2 linked regions of the Homo sapiens genome follow. The protein of the gene in region 1 interacts with the protein of each later gene in a biochemical or structural test. Each region holds a gene or a part of one and is shown on either strand. Other genes may lie near its edges.

Region 1 (7,985 bases):
TTAAGGTAACATGTGGAAATCAAATTTTTTTTTAACAAATACATTCTATGATTATATATATTAAAATTAGAAAATTCTAGCTATGGAGAAGTAGGTCCTATTAGGCTAACCATCCCTCAGATAACCACCATAAATTCTGGACAAAAGATAAAAAAGAGGCTAGACACAGTGGCTCACACCTGTAATCCTAGCACTTTGGGAGGCCAAGATGGGAGGACTGCTTGAGGCCAGGAGTTTGAGACCAGCCTGGTCAACACAGCGAGACCTCATCTCTATCGTTTAAATTTTTTTTTTAATAAAAAGATAAAAAAGACTTGAGGACACTGAAGAGCAACCAAAAGCAAGCAGAAACCAGACGGAGTCTATACTTAGAATAAAGGAATGGTATTGAGTGAGTTTCCCAATTTTTAAGGCTTTTTGCCTGAAAACAGTCCCCATCCTATGCCTAGTGAACAGCAAAATATCAATAGAAATCCCACAGTCTTACTGACTTATAGAACCAGAATACCCAGTTCAAGGTGAAAACAGCAGCTGGAAAGTGATGGGAAAGTTTCCGCAAGAGTTGAGAAAAGGAATCCTAAATACTTAATATTAATTCTACACAAATCTCTCACTGACCCATGAAGATCGTACACATGGGGCAGCCTCCAGGCAGCCCAGCTAAATAAAATAACTGAGCAGATATTCCTGCTGCCCATTGTAGGAGAGACAGTTTGGAGTTTGAGTACAATGAAGTTAATCAACAACTGTCTTAGTCGGCTTGGGATGCCACAACCAATACCACACAGACTTGGTGGGATAACAACTGAAACAAATTTTCTCACAGTTCTGGAGACTGAAAGTTCAGGATCAAGATTCCAGGAGGGCCAGTGTCTGATGAAGGCTCTCAGACAGCTGCCTCCTCACTGTGTCTTCACACAGTGAAGAGGGAGTGAATAAGCTCTCTGGTATCTCTTCTTCTAAGGACATAAATCCTATCAGACCCAGGGCCCCACCCTCATGACCTCATCTACCCCTGATTACCTCCATCTCCCAAAGTTCTCATCTCCAAATACCATCACACTGGAGGTTAGGGCTTCAAGATATGAATTCTCGGGGAGCGAGGGAGATCACATTCAGTACATAACAACAACAACAACACACACACACACAGAGCACAGGATTAAAAGAGAACCCAGAGGCTGGGCGTGGTGGCTCACACCTATAATCCCAGCACTTTGGGAGGCCAAGGCAGGCGGATCGCAAGGTCAGAAGTTTGAGACCAGCCTGACCAACATGGTGAAACCCCATCCCTACTAAAAACACAAAAATTAGCCGGGTGTGGTGTCACGCGCCTGTAATCCCGGCTACTCAGGAGGCTGAGGCAGAAGAATTGCTTGAATCTGGGGGACAGAGCTTGCAGTGAGCTGAGATCACGCCACTGCACTCCAGCCTGGGCAACAGAACAAGACCCCGTATCAAAAAAAAAAAAAAAAAAAAAACAAAAGGTAACCCAGAGCCTCTACTAAGTAACAATCCCAATGTCCAATATACACTCCAAAATGACTAGATATGGTAATGGACAGGAAAATGTGACCCATATTCAAAAGAACGGTAATCAAATTAAAAGAAATTGCCTACTAATAAAGTTCATGTGCTCAAGAAAAGAAAGTTAAATGACACTAAAGACCTAGAAATTGGCTGGGCGCAGTGGCTCATGCCTATAATCCCAGCACTTTGGGAGGCCGAGGCGGGCGGATCACGAGGTCAGGAGATTGAGACCAGTCTGACCGATATGGTGAAACCACGTCTCTACTAAAAAAATACAAAAAATCAGCCGGGCGTGGTGGTGGGCGCCTGTAGTCCCAGCTACTCGGGAGGCTGAGGCAGGAGGATGGCGTGAACCCAAGAGGCAGAGCTTGCAGTGAGCCAAGATGCACCATTGCACTCCAGCCTGGGCAACAGAGTGAGACTCTCTCTCAAAAAAAAAAAACAAAAACAAAAACAAAAACAAAAACAAAAACCAACACCTAGAAATTCAGAGTTATGTGATAAATTTGTACATGGGTCAACATGCCTGCCAAGGGTGACCAACATGCCTGCCAAGGGTGACACAGACAATGACAAATAAGACTAGCCTAAAGCAAAATGTTGAAATAAGCTGGCACTCTCTGACTTCCCCTATCAGAGTTCAATACATTTGACTTTCTGACACTCTTACAGACCCTACTCTCTAGTTCCATTCTTTAAAAAAAAAAAATATATATATATATATATATATATACACACACACACACATATACATAATTTTATTATGTCACAGAGTTCCACTCTTACTCTAAACTGGCTGCCAACTACTCAACTAATTAATAATTAGATATTACTGACATTTTAGATACGAACCCTATGAGAGTTTTAAAGATATTATTGAAAAGCATCTATAATTCTGTAACAATTGGTAGAAAAGTTCTATATATTTAAAAACTTAAGGCCAGGTGCAGTGGCTTATGCCTGTAACCCCAACACTTTGGGAGGCCAAGGCAAGAGGACCACTTAAGCCCAGGAGTTCAAGATCAACCTGGGCAACAGAGTGAGAAACCCATCTTTGCAAAAACAAAAAAAAAAATTTTTTTGAGACGAAGTCTCGCTCTGTCACCCAGGCTGGAGTGCAATGGCGTGATCTCAGCTCACTGCAACCTCCACCTCCTGGGTTCAAGAGATTCACCTGCCTCAGCCTCCCGAGTAGCTGGGACTACAGGTGCGTGCCACCACGCCCGGCTAATTTTTGTATTTTTAGTAGAGATGGGGTTTCACCATGTTGGCCAGGATGGTCTCGATCTCTTGACCTGGTGATCCACCCGCCTCAGCCTTCCAAAGTGCTGGGATTACAGGCATTAACCACCGCACCCAGTCAAAAAAATTTTTTAATTAGCCAGGTTGGTGGTATGGGCCTGTCATTTTAGGTACTTGGGAGGCTGAAGTGGCAGGATCACTTGAGCCTAGGAGGTTGGGAATACAGTAAGCCATGATGATGTCACTGCACTCTGACATGGGCAACAGAGCAAAACACTATCCAAAAAAAACAAAACAGAAAACTTGGACGCTTGGACGTTCACACTGCGAGTAAGCCATATCAACCCATTATCTATCAGTGAGCAGGGTGTTGATACTTTTGTTGATACATTCATGATAGGTTTCTACAGGTTTTATTTCATTTATATATATATATATTATATATATGTGTATATATATAATATATATATATATATATATATATATATTTTTTTTTTTTTTTGAGACAGAGTCTTGTTTTGTCACCCAGGCTGGGGTGCAGTGGCGCAATCTGGAGTCACTGCAACCTCCATCTCCTGGATTCAACCAATTCTCATGCCCCAGTCTCACAAGGAGCTGGGATTACAGGCGCACACCATCACGTCCAGCTGATTTTTATATTTTTAGTAGAGGTGGGGTTATCTACGTTGGCCAGGCTGGTCTCAAACTCCTAGCTTCAAGCAATCCTCCCGCCTCAGCCTCCCAAAGCACTGGGATTACAGGCAAGAGCCACCATGCCCAGTCTTTTCCTGCTGCTTTTAACAAAGAGTTACACCCATCCAGAAATCTATTTAATGACTTTTCTAATCTACTAAGGATTGCCCCAGAGTATGTGTCTCTGCACTTGTCAAAATAAAATGCATGACCGGGCGGTGGCTCACGCTTGTAATCCCAGCACTTTGGGGGGCCAAGGTGGGTGGATCACTTGAGGTCAGGAGTTCGAGACCAGCCTGGTCAACATGGTGAAACCCTGTCTCTGCTAAAAATACAAATATTAGCTGGGCATGGTGGCGGGTGCCTGTAATCCTAGCTACTCGGGAGGCTGACAGAGGAGAATCACTTGAACCCGGGAGGCAGAGGCTGCAGGGAGCTGAGATTGTGCCACTGCACTCCAGCCTGGGTGACAGAGCAAGACTCCATCTCAAAAAATATAAAAATAAAAATAAAATAAAATGCATACAGACTAATGCGTGTAATCCCAGTACTTTAGGAGGCCAAGGCAGGTAGATCACTTGAGACCAGGAGTTCAAGGCCAGCCTGAGCAACATGCCAAAACTCTGTCTCCAGTAAAAACACAAATTTTTAAAAAATAAAAATAAAAACACAAAAAGTAGCCCAATGTGGTGGCGCAACCTGTAACCTCAGCTACTTGGGAAGCTGCAGCAGGAGAATGGCTTGAACCCGGGAGGCGGAGTCTGCAATGAGCCAAGATCGCACCACTGAACTCTAGCCTAATTGACAGAGAGAGACACTTGTCTCAAAAAAAAAAAAACAAAAACCAGACAACTGAGTTGTAAATTATCTGTCCTAAGGTTAATACACAGAAATTTGATAGTAAAGGAAATTCTATTAGGTTTCATTATCATTTGAAGAAAATCAAGTACAGCAAACTTTTTAAGTTATAACTTTTTTAAAAAAAACCTTAACTTTTTTAACTTGACATAACACCTGTCATCTGAGGTCTTACAAATATACATGTCCCTGAATATCAAAAGCCTTCTCCAAGTTTCTGTAGTTTGGCAGGTCAACACCTACTCTACCACTTATTAGCCTTGTGACCGTTGGCAAGTGATTTTTGATTCTCTGCTCTTTATATATAAATAATGGAGAAAACAGTATTGACATCACAGAATTTTCCTGCGGGATTAATATATGTAAAGTGTCGGGCGAGGTGGCTCATGCCTGTAATCCCAGCACTTTGGGAGGCCAAGGCGGGCAGATCACGAGGTCAGGAGTTCGAGACCAGCCTGACCAACATGGTGAAACTCCGTCTCTACCAAAAATACAAAAATTAGCCGGGCATGGTAGCACATGCCTGTAATCCCAGCTACTCAGGAGGCTGAGGCAGGAGAATCACTTGAACCCGGGAGGCAGAGGTTGCAGTGAGCCAAGATCACGCCACTGCACTTCAGCCTGGATGACCGAGCAAGACTTCGTCTCAAAAATAAATAAATACACACACACACACACACACACACACACAAAGCATTCAGAGCAATGGCCACAGCTAAATGCCGACACATTAGCTAATGCAAAAATGTGCCTAAAGCCTATTACACACTTCTCTTAGTCCAGAGTATCTTCCGGGTACTGGGTATGATAAATTAGACTAGGAAGACTATCATTTCATATAGTAAAGGCTAATGTATAGCCCTATCTTTCTAGTCTAATTATGTTTCTCCAGTGTCCTCCTAACAGTAATAGTCTGCTTCTCAGGTAACTTTCCTCCTGTTATCTCCAGCATACTACCAAACTGCCAGCAGAAAGCAGAAAACTAAGCCTGTTAAATTTCACTTTGCACACATTTTTCAATCAGTGAACTCTGTCTCAGGGTTGCTATATTATTGATGACTTAGCTCAAAAGCTTTTTGCTCACTTTCCACAAGGAGCTTTGTTTCCAAAGGTTAAGGTTTCCAGAAGTCTGGCAGCTGGATAGTTAAGGTGTTATGTTATTGACATGTTTATATGATAGTAAGAGGGGTAAACAGTGTTTCACAGACTTTAATCCTAATATTGCTCCTTAGGTCAAGTAGGGAAAAGATTATCATTTGCCTTTTACAGATTGAGAAGATAACAGTGATGCTCATAAAAGACTGTGCGGTGGCTCACGCCTGTAATCCCAGCACTTTGGGAGGCTGAGGTGGATCACTTGAGGTCAGGAGTTCAAGACCAGCCTGGCCAACATGGGGAAACCCTGTCTCTACTAAAAGTACAAAAATTAGTCAGGCATGGTGGCAGGCACCTGTAATCCCAGCTACTCGAGAGGCTGAGGCAGGAGAATCACTTTAAACTGGAAGGCACAGTTTGCAGTGAGCCGACATCGCGCCACCGCAAGCCTGGGCAAAAGAGCAAAACTCAGTCTCAAAAAAAAAAAAAAAAAAGGACTGTGACCTGGCAAAAATATGTCAAGAGTCAAGTCTTGACTTATCAACTTCAAAAAACTGCTTACCTCCACACACCAAAATTCCTTTAACAGGGTTCTAAAACCCCTACGTGGACAGAAAACTAAATACACAGTCCCAGAAAAACAGGTTAAAAAAATCCAGAGCATGAGGTCAAGAGATCGAGACCAGCCTGGCCAACATGGTGAAACCCCATCTCTACTAAAAATATAAAAATTAGATGGGCGTTGTGGTGTGTGCCTGTAATCCCAGCTACTAGAGGCTGAGGCAGGAGAATCACTTGAATCCAGGAGGCGGAGGTTGCAGTGAGCCAAGATCGCACCATTGCACTCCAGCCTGGGCGACAAGAGGGAAACTCCATCTCAAAAAAAAAAAAAAAATTCCAGAGCAATTTCCTAAATCCAAAATTAACTGTACCAAAAAGTCAACAAAATCTCTAAAAGAACTAACAATTTAAATTAGAACTAATCATATTTGTATAAAGTACAAGAGGTCCAATTCTCCAAGTCAAACACTGTATTCACATTCAACTAATCTAATAATTGCAAAGCATCATCTAAAAGTGACACCCATCTTAAGTTCTTTTTACTGATTCACATAAATGACTCAGTTAAAATCCCCATAGTCAAGTAATGCTTATGTCCTAAACTAACCTCAACCACTGAATTTTGCTTCCCGGTACCAAACTTTTTTTTTTTTTTTGAGACAGGGTCTGGTTCTGTTACCCAGGCTGGAGTGCAGTGGCATGATCTCAGCTCACTGCAACCTCAAGCCATCCTCCCACCTCAGCCTCCCAAGTAGCTGGGACCACAGGTGCGCATCACCATGCCCAGCTAATGTTTTTTTATTTTTTTTGGTAGAGACTGGGTTTCGCCATCTTTCCCAGGCTAGTCTTGTACTCCTGGGCTCAAGGGATCCACCCGCCTCAGTCTCTCAAAGTGCTAGGATTACAAGCATGAGCCACTGCACCCTGACCCAGGTACCAAACTTAAAGCATTTGACATTTAACAGGCAGTCACTTAAAAAAAAAAAACTGCAATTTACTTATATGTTGAAAGATTTCCCAAAAAGAAAGGAGAAAAGGAAACCCAGAATGAAATAATAGATCAATGACAAAAACTAAATGACTACTACAAAAACTACTACATGAATAACATATGGGGAACTTCACAACTGAGAGATCAGGCATCAGACAACACGAATCCACTGGTCAATCTTAACATTTAAAAAAAAAAAAAGAAGCCAGGGTCAGTGGCTCACGCCTGTAATCCCAACACTTTGGGAGGCCGAGGCGGGTGGATCACCTGGGGTCAGGAGTTTGAGACCAGCCTGGCCAACATGGCAAACCCTGTCTCTACTAAAAATACAAAAATTAGCCGGGTGTGGTGGTGGACGCCTGTAATCCCAGCTTCGGGAGGCTGGGGCAGCAGAATCGCTTGAACCAGGAGGCAGAGGCTGCAGCAAGCCAGGCACTCCAGCCTGGGTGACAAGAGCAAGACTCTGTTCCAAAAAAAACAAAATAAAACAACAACAACAAAAAAAACAAGTGCAAGACTCCTTCTCAAAAAACAAAGACAGTATGTGCCTCTTAATGTAATGCAACAGAAAGTACATAGTACTATCTATGAGTATTGTCAAAGTATGAAACTAGAATCTGATCAAGTCTTTTTTTTTTGAGAAAGACTCTCACCCAGGCTGGAGTGAATGGCGCAATCTTGGCTCACTGCAACCTCCGCCTCCAAGTTCAACGGAGTCTCCTGCCTCAGCCTCACGAGTAGCTGGGATTACAGGTGCCCATCACGACGCCCTGCTAATTTTTAGTAGAGACGGGGTTTCACCATGTTGGCCAGGCTAGTTTTGAACTCCTGACCTCAAGTGATCCGGGATCAGCCTGTCGCCGCCTCCCAAAGTATGGGGATTACTGCGCCCCACCTGATTAAGTCGTTTTTTTTTTTTCTGAGACAGAGTCTCACTCTGTCACCCAGGCTGTAGTGCAGTGGCAGGATCTCCGCTTACTGCAACCTCCACCTCCCAGGTTCAAGCGATTCTCCT
Region 2 (7,000 bases), on another chromosome or scaffold:
TATTGTTACTATGAAGAAAAGGAGAAGCTGGACGAGGTGGCTCACACCTGTAATCCTAGCACTTTGGGAGGCCAAGGCAGGTAGATTGCTTGAGCTCAGGAGTTTGAGACAAGCCTGGGCAACATGGCAAAACCCTGTCTCTACAAAAAAAAAAAAAAATTAGCCAGGCCTGGTGGTGCACACCTGTGATCCCAGCTACTTAGGAGGCTGAGGTGGGAAGAATGCTTGAGACGGAGGCCGAGGCTGTAGTGAGTTGCTATCGCGCCACCACATTCCAGCCTGGGCAACAGAGCAAGACGCTGTCTCATAAAAAAAGAAGAGAGATGAAGGGGAGGAAGAGGAGGAACAGACCACTTCACATCCATTTATAATGCTAAGAAAGAGGCTTCTCCACGGTGCAGATGGGAAAACTAAGGCGAGCAGCAGGAGAAAAGGCGGGGGGTCTGCTCCTAGCTCTGCCTGATCCCAAAACTTTATTTTGTTCCTTCTCCCGTGCATTTTGTGTTGAAAATATAACAAATTATCACCGGAGACATTAAGTGACCTAAAGTTACTAGAAATCAGGGCTGGCTGAGGACAGTGGGCAGCAGTGTGGCTTTCTGAATGGCCCACCCTGCTGCCTGGCACCACCCCATGTGAAATATTGATTTTTCGAGCTGTGGGAACTTTCAGCCCAAGTGGTCACGTCCAGCTGGAAGAAGTTCAGAGAAACCCAAAACACTTCCCACCCCATTCCTTAACCCTAGTGCCCCCCAACAAAAAACAACAAAAAAGACGAAGGGAGTAGAAGAATAGACTCTTAAGGAAAGATTAAAGGAGCTCAGTATGTGTTGCTTGGCTAAACAGGGCATAAACATCAAAAAAAAAGAGAGTCACCATTTAGAAAACACGCTTAAATGAAGCCTCCTGATTTGGAAAGGCACTGGGTATGAGCGAAACCAGGGGCCAAGGTTTTCTACCGACTCACAGAATGAGCTTAAGCAAATCGCTTTTTCTCTAATTAGGAAAAAAAAAAAGAAATGTTATTTTAATTATTCCCAACATCTCTTCCAGCCAGGCATTCTATAATTCTAAATCCAGTAGGGAGGGTTTTCATTGTTGTTGCTGATTTTTCTTTTAAGCAGGGGATGATTTCAAATTAGAGTTAAAATGCAAGAAGAAAGGCTCTTCTTTCTAAGGCCCACGTCCTTTTGGTGAGTGGCAACCTACTCAGAGATTAGCTTCGAGCTCCCCCAACACATTAAAAATTGTACAGAGAGGCCAGGCGTGGTGGCTCACGCCTGTAATCCCAGCACTTCGGGAGGCCGAGGCGGGTGGATCATGAGGTCAGGAGATGGAGACCATCCTGGCTAACACGGTGAAACCCCGTCTCTACTGAAAATACAAAAAAAATTAGCCGGGCGTGGTGGCGGGTGCCTGTAGTCCCAGCTACTTGGGAGGCTGAGGCAGGAGAATGGCGTGAACCCGGGAGGTGGAGCGTGCAGTGAGCTGAGATCGCGCCACTGCACTCCAGCCTGGGTGACAGAGCGAGACTCCGTCTCAGAAAAATAAAAAGTTGTACAGAAAGACATCATCTTGGCCTAAGAAGGCAAGAGAGGGACCTCCCTGAGAAGCCCCTTTTCTCCTCTGGGACATACCATAAGGATGGTAAGGGCCTCTGAGAAGTACCAAGGAAGTGACTCGAGGGTGGGGAAGATCAGCTACCTGTAACCCCACTACAGGCCTTAGCCCAACCTGCACGGCAGGAAGCCACACCCTTCCGGAAGGCCCTGCAAAGGCTCCTTCCAGCCACAGCAGGAGGGTCCTGGGCTAGAGATGCAGACAGCCACTGAGGGACTCCCAGCTGCTCCAGCGCTTGGCGGGCTAGCTAAGGGCCTTCTCTGGGGACACCTGCCCGGGTGCTGAATCATCTCAGGCTCGAGAAGCTAATCGTGGGAATGGGAACCTGAGTAATTCCAACAGAAGCCTAGGTTACTTTTTAAAGAGACATGCATCAGAGTGGGCAGCTCCCCTCCTGCCTCCCAAATATTTGGTGCCATCTAAGCACAAGGGACAGGGAGCTGGGTACAGATACAGGCCGCCCGCCCATGCAGTGGCGGTCCCATTTTAGAGCCAGTCTCATAGTGTGTGCTCATGTGTGACTCACACCATTCCCCCAGGAGGCCCGGAGGCTGCCTTGCAGGACCTCAGGACCCTGATGGGGTCTTCCAGACTTCACTCAGGAAAGGAGTCAATCGGGCACAACAGCAGCGCCGGCAGCTCCTCCCAGGGCCCACACCATCCAAGGCGAAAGACAGCCATCCTTGAGAAGGGGGGTAGGGCCCTCCCATTCAAAACACCCCTCTGATCACATCTTCTCAAGAATTTGGGCTTTTCCAGTGTTGTTATACATAAAAACCACAGGCCAGATGTCTTAGGGGAAACTGGGGACAGAGTGGGAAGGGGCATAATAGTGGATGCAATGACCCCAAGTTAAAAAAGAAGGCCAGGTGGCCGGGTGCGGTGGCTCACGCCTGTAATCCCACCACTTCGGGAGGCCAAGCCAGGTGGATCACCTGAGGTCAGGAGTTCGAGACCAGCCTGGCCAACATGGTGAAACCCTGCCTCTACTAAAAATACAAAAATTAGCCAGGCGTGGTGACAGGTGCCTATAATCCCAGCTACTCGGGAGGCTGAGGCAGGAGAATCGCTTGAACCTGGGAGGTGGAGGTTGCAGTGAGCTAAGATCACGCCACTGCACTCCAGCCTGGGCAACAGAGTGAGACTCTGTCTCCAAAAAAAGAAAAGAAAAGAAAAGAAAAGAAAGAAAGCCAGGTATGTGAGGGCCTGGGTTGGGCTTCAGGTTGGGGTGGGCTCCCCAGGACAGGACAGCTTATGATTTGGAGCCAAGCGAATTATGGAAACCTTGCAAGAGGGTATCCCAAAACGCTTTCCAGACACACATGCAGGCTTTCTCTTCTCATACAGCAAAGAAAAATCAATCATCTACCATTTCCCAGAATATGAGGAAGTAGATCAGAAAGGACTTCTGTTTAAGGGGTTACTCTAGTGATGTGACATCATGGGAAGAAAACAGGACCCAAAGGTTTCAAGCACAAAGACCCTTCCCTCTTACCTTGTAAAAGGTAGGCATTCAATATGCAATATGGAACCTAAAGCAATGCACTTTAAAGTTGAGACCTACAGATTAGCCAGCTGGACCCCTTATTTTTATAGTTAAGAAAAATAAGAAATAGCTGAATTTTTTATTCTTTAGGGACAATATGGCCGGGCACACTGGCTCATGCCTGTAATCCCAGCACTTTGGGAAGAAGAAGCAGGTGGATCACTTGAAGTCAGGAGATGGGGACCAACCTGGGCAACATGGTGAAACCCCGTCTCTACTAAAAATACAAAAAAATTAGCTGGGCATAGTGGCGCACACCTGTAATCCCAGCTACTCAGGAGGCTGAGGCAGGAGAATCACATGAACCCAGGAGGTGGAGGTTGCAGTGAGCCGAGATCGATCATGCCACTCCAGCCTGGGCAACAGAGCGAGACTCCATCTCAAAAAAAAAAAAAAAAGTATTGAGTGAAATGTACTGCTCACTCCCTGCTCCTGTTGCCTAGACCCTAGGCAACCACCATTACCAGGGTCTCAGTATCTTTCCAGAAATACTGCATGCACAGAGCAGAGTTTACATACCATGTTTTACACAAAACGAAGCACCATTTACACTACTTTGCGTCTGGTGTTTTTCACTTACAACATAGCTTGGAGAGCACACCCTATCAGTACATATGGATTGACCTCATTTTTCAAAGGGATGCAAGGACTTCCACTGTACAGCTGTACCATGATTTAGTTGACCTTTTTAATAGCACAACTTGTTTCCTGTCATCTTCTATGTCAATGCCGCAATGAAGATTCTCAGACATTTCCTTCAGCACATCTGAGTTTATCTGTGAGATGAATTCCTAGAATATAGTCGGAAGGAGTATGCTTTGACAGATACTGCCAAACAACTTTCTTTTGTTGTTGTTGTTGTTGTTTAATGTAACCCAGAGACAGACTCTCCCTGTGTTGCCCAGGCTGATCTCGAACTCCTGGGCTCAAGCAATCCTCCCCCATTGGCCTCCCAAAGTGCTGGGATTACAGATGTGAGCCACCATGCCCAGCCCCAAACGACCTTCTAAAAAGAGGGTTGTACAATATACACTCCCATCAATAAGGTACCAGAGTGCTGGCCAGGTGCGGTGGCTCACGCCTGTAATCCCAGCACTCTGGGAGGCCAAGGCGGGCGGATCACCTGAGGTCAGCAGTTCGAGACCAGCCTGGCCAACATGGTGAAACCCCATTTCTATTAAAAATGCAAAAATTAGCTGGGCGTGGTGGCAGGCGCCTGTAATCCCAGCTACTTGGGAAGCTGAGGCAGGAGAATCGCTTGAACCCAGGAGGCGGAGGTTGCAGTGAGCCGAGATCACACCACTGCACTCCAGCCTGGGCAACAGAGCGAGACTCAGTCTCAAAAAACAAAAAAAAGAGTGCCTAGGAAATTAAAATTACTTGATTTTGCTGGGTGTGGTGGCTCATGCCTATAATCCCAGCACTTTGGGAGGCCAAGGCGGGTGGATCGCCTGAGGTCGGAAGTTCGAGACCAGCCTGGCCAACGTGGTGAAACCCCATCTCTACTAAAAATGCAAAAACTAGCCGGGTGTGGTGGTGCACCCCTGTAATCCTGGCTACTCGGTAGGCTGAGGTAGGAATATTGCTTGAACCCAGGAGGCAGAGGCTGCAGTGAGCCAAGATCATGCCACTGTACTCCAGCCTGGGCAACAGAGTGAGACCCCATCTCAAATAAAGAAATAAATAAATAAATAAAATTACTTAATTTTTCAGTTTTTCAGGCACTCCCATACATAACTTGTGGGCACATAAACTGGTATGATATCTTTGTAGGGAGATACGGCACCTCCTCGGAAATCAAACCTGGCCAGGTGCAGTATTTCACACCTGTAACCCCAGCACTCTGAGAGGCTGAGGCAGGAGGGTTGCTTGAGCCCAGGGGTTTGAGACTAGCCTAGGCAATACAGCAAGATCCCATCCCTACAAAAAACACAAAAATTAGCCAGGTGTAGCAGTGTGCACTTGTAATCCTGGCTACTCAGGAGGCTGAGGCAGAGAATTGCTTGAGCCCAGGAATTTGAGGCTGCAGTGAGCTATGATCATGCTACTGCACTATAGCCTGGGCAACAGAGCAAGACCCTGCTTCAAAACGAAATCAAAAAACAAAAAGGAAATCAAACCTCCCCTCACCCAGAGCCAGAGTTGGAAGTAAGGTCTCCAGTCACCCAAGTCCAGTGCTCTTCCTGTATCACCCTTTGGCTATCTCCCAGACCACAGGAAACCATGTGTTTGAACTGAAACCACAGTCTGCACACCTTCTGTCCCAGCCGGGGCCCTGTGAAGAGGTTACTCAGCAGAAGTTCATCACCAAGTGCATCCAAAAGCATCAGCAGATGGGCCTCATAGCCACTTGTGAATAGGCAGTCCACAACCACAGTCCACAACCACAATACACGCATACCTTGTTGTGCACAGAGGCAGAAAGAACACCGAGCTAGAAGCCAGGAAAACAATCTGTCCCCCAGCCTCATCCCCACCCCCTCAACCTGATAACCTAGGGAGTTAAGACTGATCATTTATATTAAAAAAAAAGGGGGGGGGGTGCCAGGTGCGGTGGCTCACGCCTGTAATCCTAACACTTTGGGAGGCTGAGGCGGGTAGATCACCTGAGGTCAGGAGCTCGAGACCAGCCTGGCCAACATAGTGAAACCCTGTCTCTACTAAAAATACAAAAAAATTAGCCACGCATGGTGGCGGGCACCTGTAATCCCAGCTATTCGGGAGGTTGAGGCATGAGAACCGCTTGAACCCAGGAGGCGGAGGTTGCAGTGAGACAAGATAGTGCCACTGCACTCCAGCCTGGGTGACAGAGTGAGACCCTGTCTCGAAAAAAAAAAAAAAAGTGGGCGAGGGGGTGCTGGGTGTGGTGGCTCACGCCTGTAATCCTAGCACTCTGGGAGGTCGAGGCCGGTGGATCGCTTGAGGTCAGAAGTTCCAGACCAGCGTGGTCAACATGGCAAAATCCCATCTCTACTAAAAATACAAAAATTAGCCAAGTATGGTGGCAGGCACCTGTAATCCCAGCTACTCGGGAGACTGAGGCAGAAGAATCGCTTAAACCTTGGGGGCAGAGGTTGCAGTGAGCTGAGATTGTGCCACTGCACTCTAGCCTGGGCGAGAGTGAGACTCATCTCAAAAAACAAACAAACAAACAAAAACCATATATGAGCCGGGCACGGTGGCTCACACCTGTAATCTCAGCACTGTGGGAGGCCGAGATGGGCAGATCACCTGAGGTCAGGAGTTCGAGATCAGCCTGGCCAACATGGTGAAACCTCATCTCAACTACAGATATAAAAACTAGTGGGGTGTGGTGGTGGGCACCTGTAATCCCAGCTACTCGGGAGGCTGAGGCAGGAGAATTGCTTGAACCCAGGAGGAAGAGGTTGCAGCAAGCTGAGGTCACGCCATTGCACTCTAGCCTGGGCGACAGAGCAAGACTCTGTCTCAAAAAAAAAAAAAAAAAAAAAAAAAAAAAATATATATATATATATATATATATATATATATATATATATACAGCCACTACATATTAGGCCATGTACATACCTTATTTCTTTCAGTTCATGCATCTAACCCCACAGGGTAGGATCTTGATTCCCATATTATACATAAGCACATCCAAGCTGTGAGGCTATGTGACTTGCCTAAGGTCACAAAGCTATTAAGTAGCATGGTCAGGATTTGAACTCGGCCTGTTTCCAAAGCTCACGTTCTTTCCACTACCCCACTCTTCCCAGCTCTAAGAGTGGGATTCAGTAAGCCACAGCAGCAGCACTGCCAGGGCTCCATTCTTTTGTCAGCAGAGGACTCCAGCCCAGGGTCTCAGCACAC

Evidence for each region. The genes of interacting proteins can lie anywhere in the genome.
Region 2: of the proteins of TRPM7 (region 1) and MYH9, one has a biochemical effect on the other in vitro, tested with the Homo sapiens proteins (one study listed by IntAct).

The regions. Positions count from the first base shown.
Region 1 is NC_000015.10:50,676,280-50,684,264, forward strand, and holds part of TRPM7 (transient receptor potential cation channel subfamily M member 7), read right to left. Parts: intron 1-7,985. UniProt on the Homo sapiens protein: Bifunctional protein that combines an ion channel with an intrinsic kinase domain, enabling it to modulate cellular functions either by conducting ions through the pore or by phosphorylating downstream proteins via its kinase domain.
Region 2 is NC_000022.11:36,377,968-36,384,967, forward strand, and holds part of MYH9 (myosin-9), read right to left. Parts: intron 1-7,000. UniProt on the Homo sapiens protein: Cellular myosin that appears to play a role in cytokinesis, cell shape, and specialized functions such as secretion and capping. Required for cortical actin clearance prior to oocyte exocytosis. Promotes cell motility in conjunction with S100A4.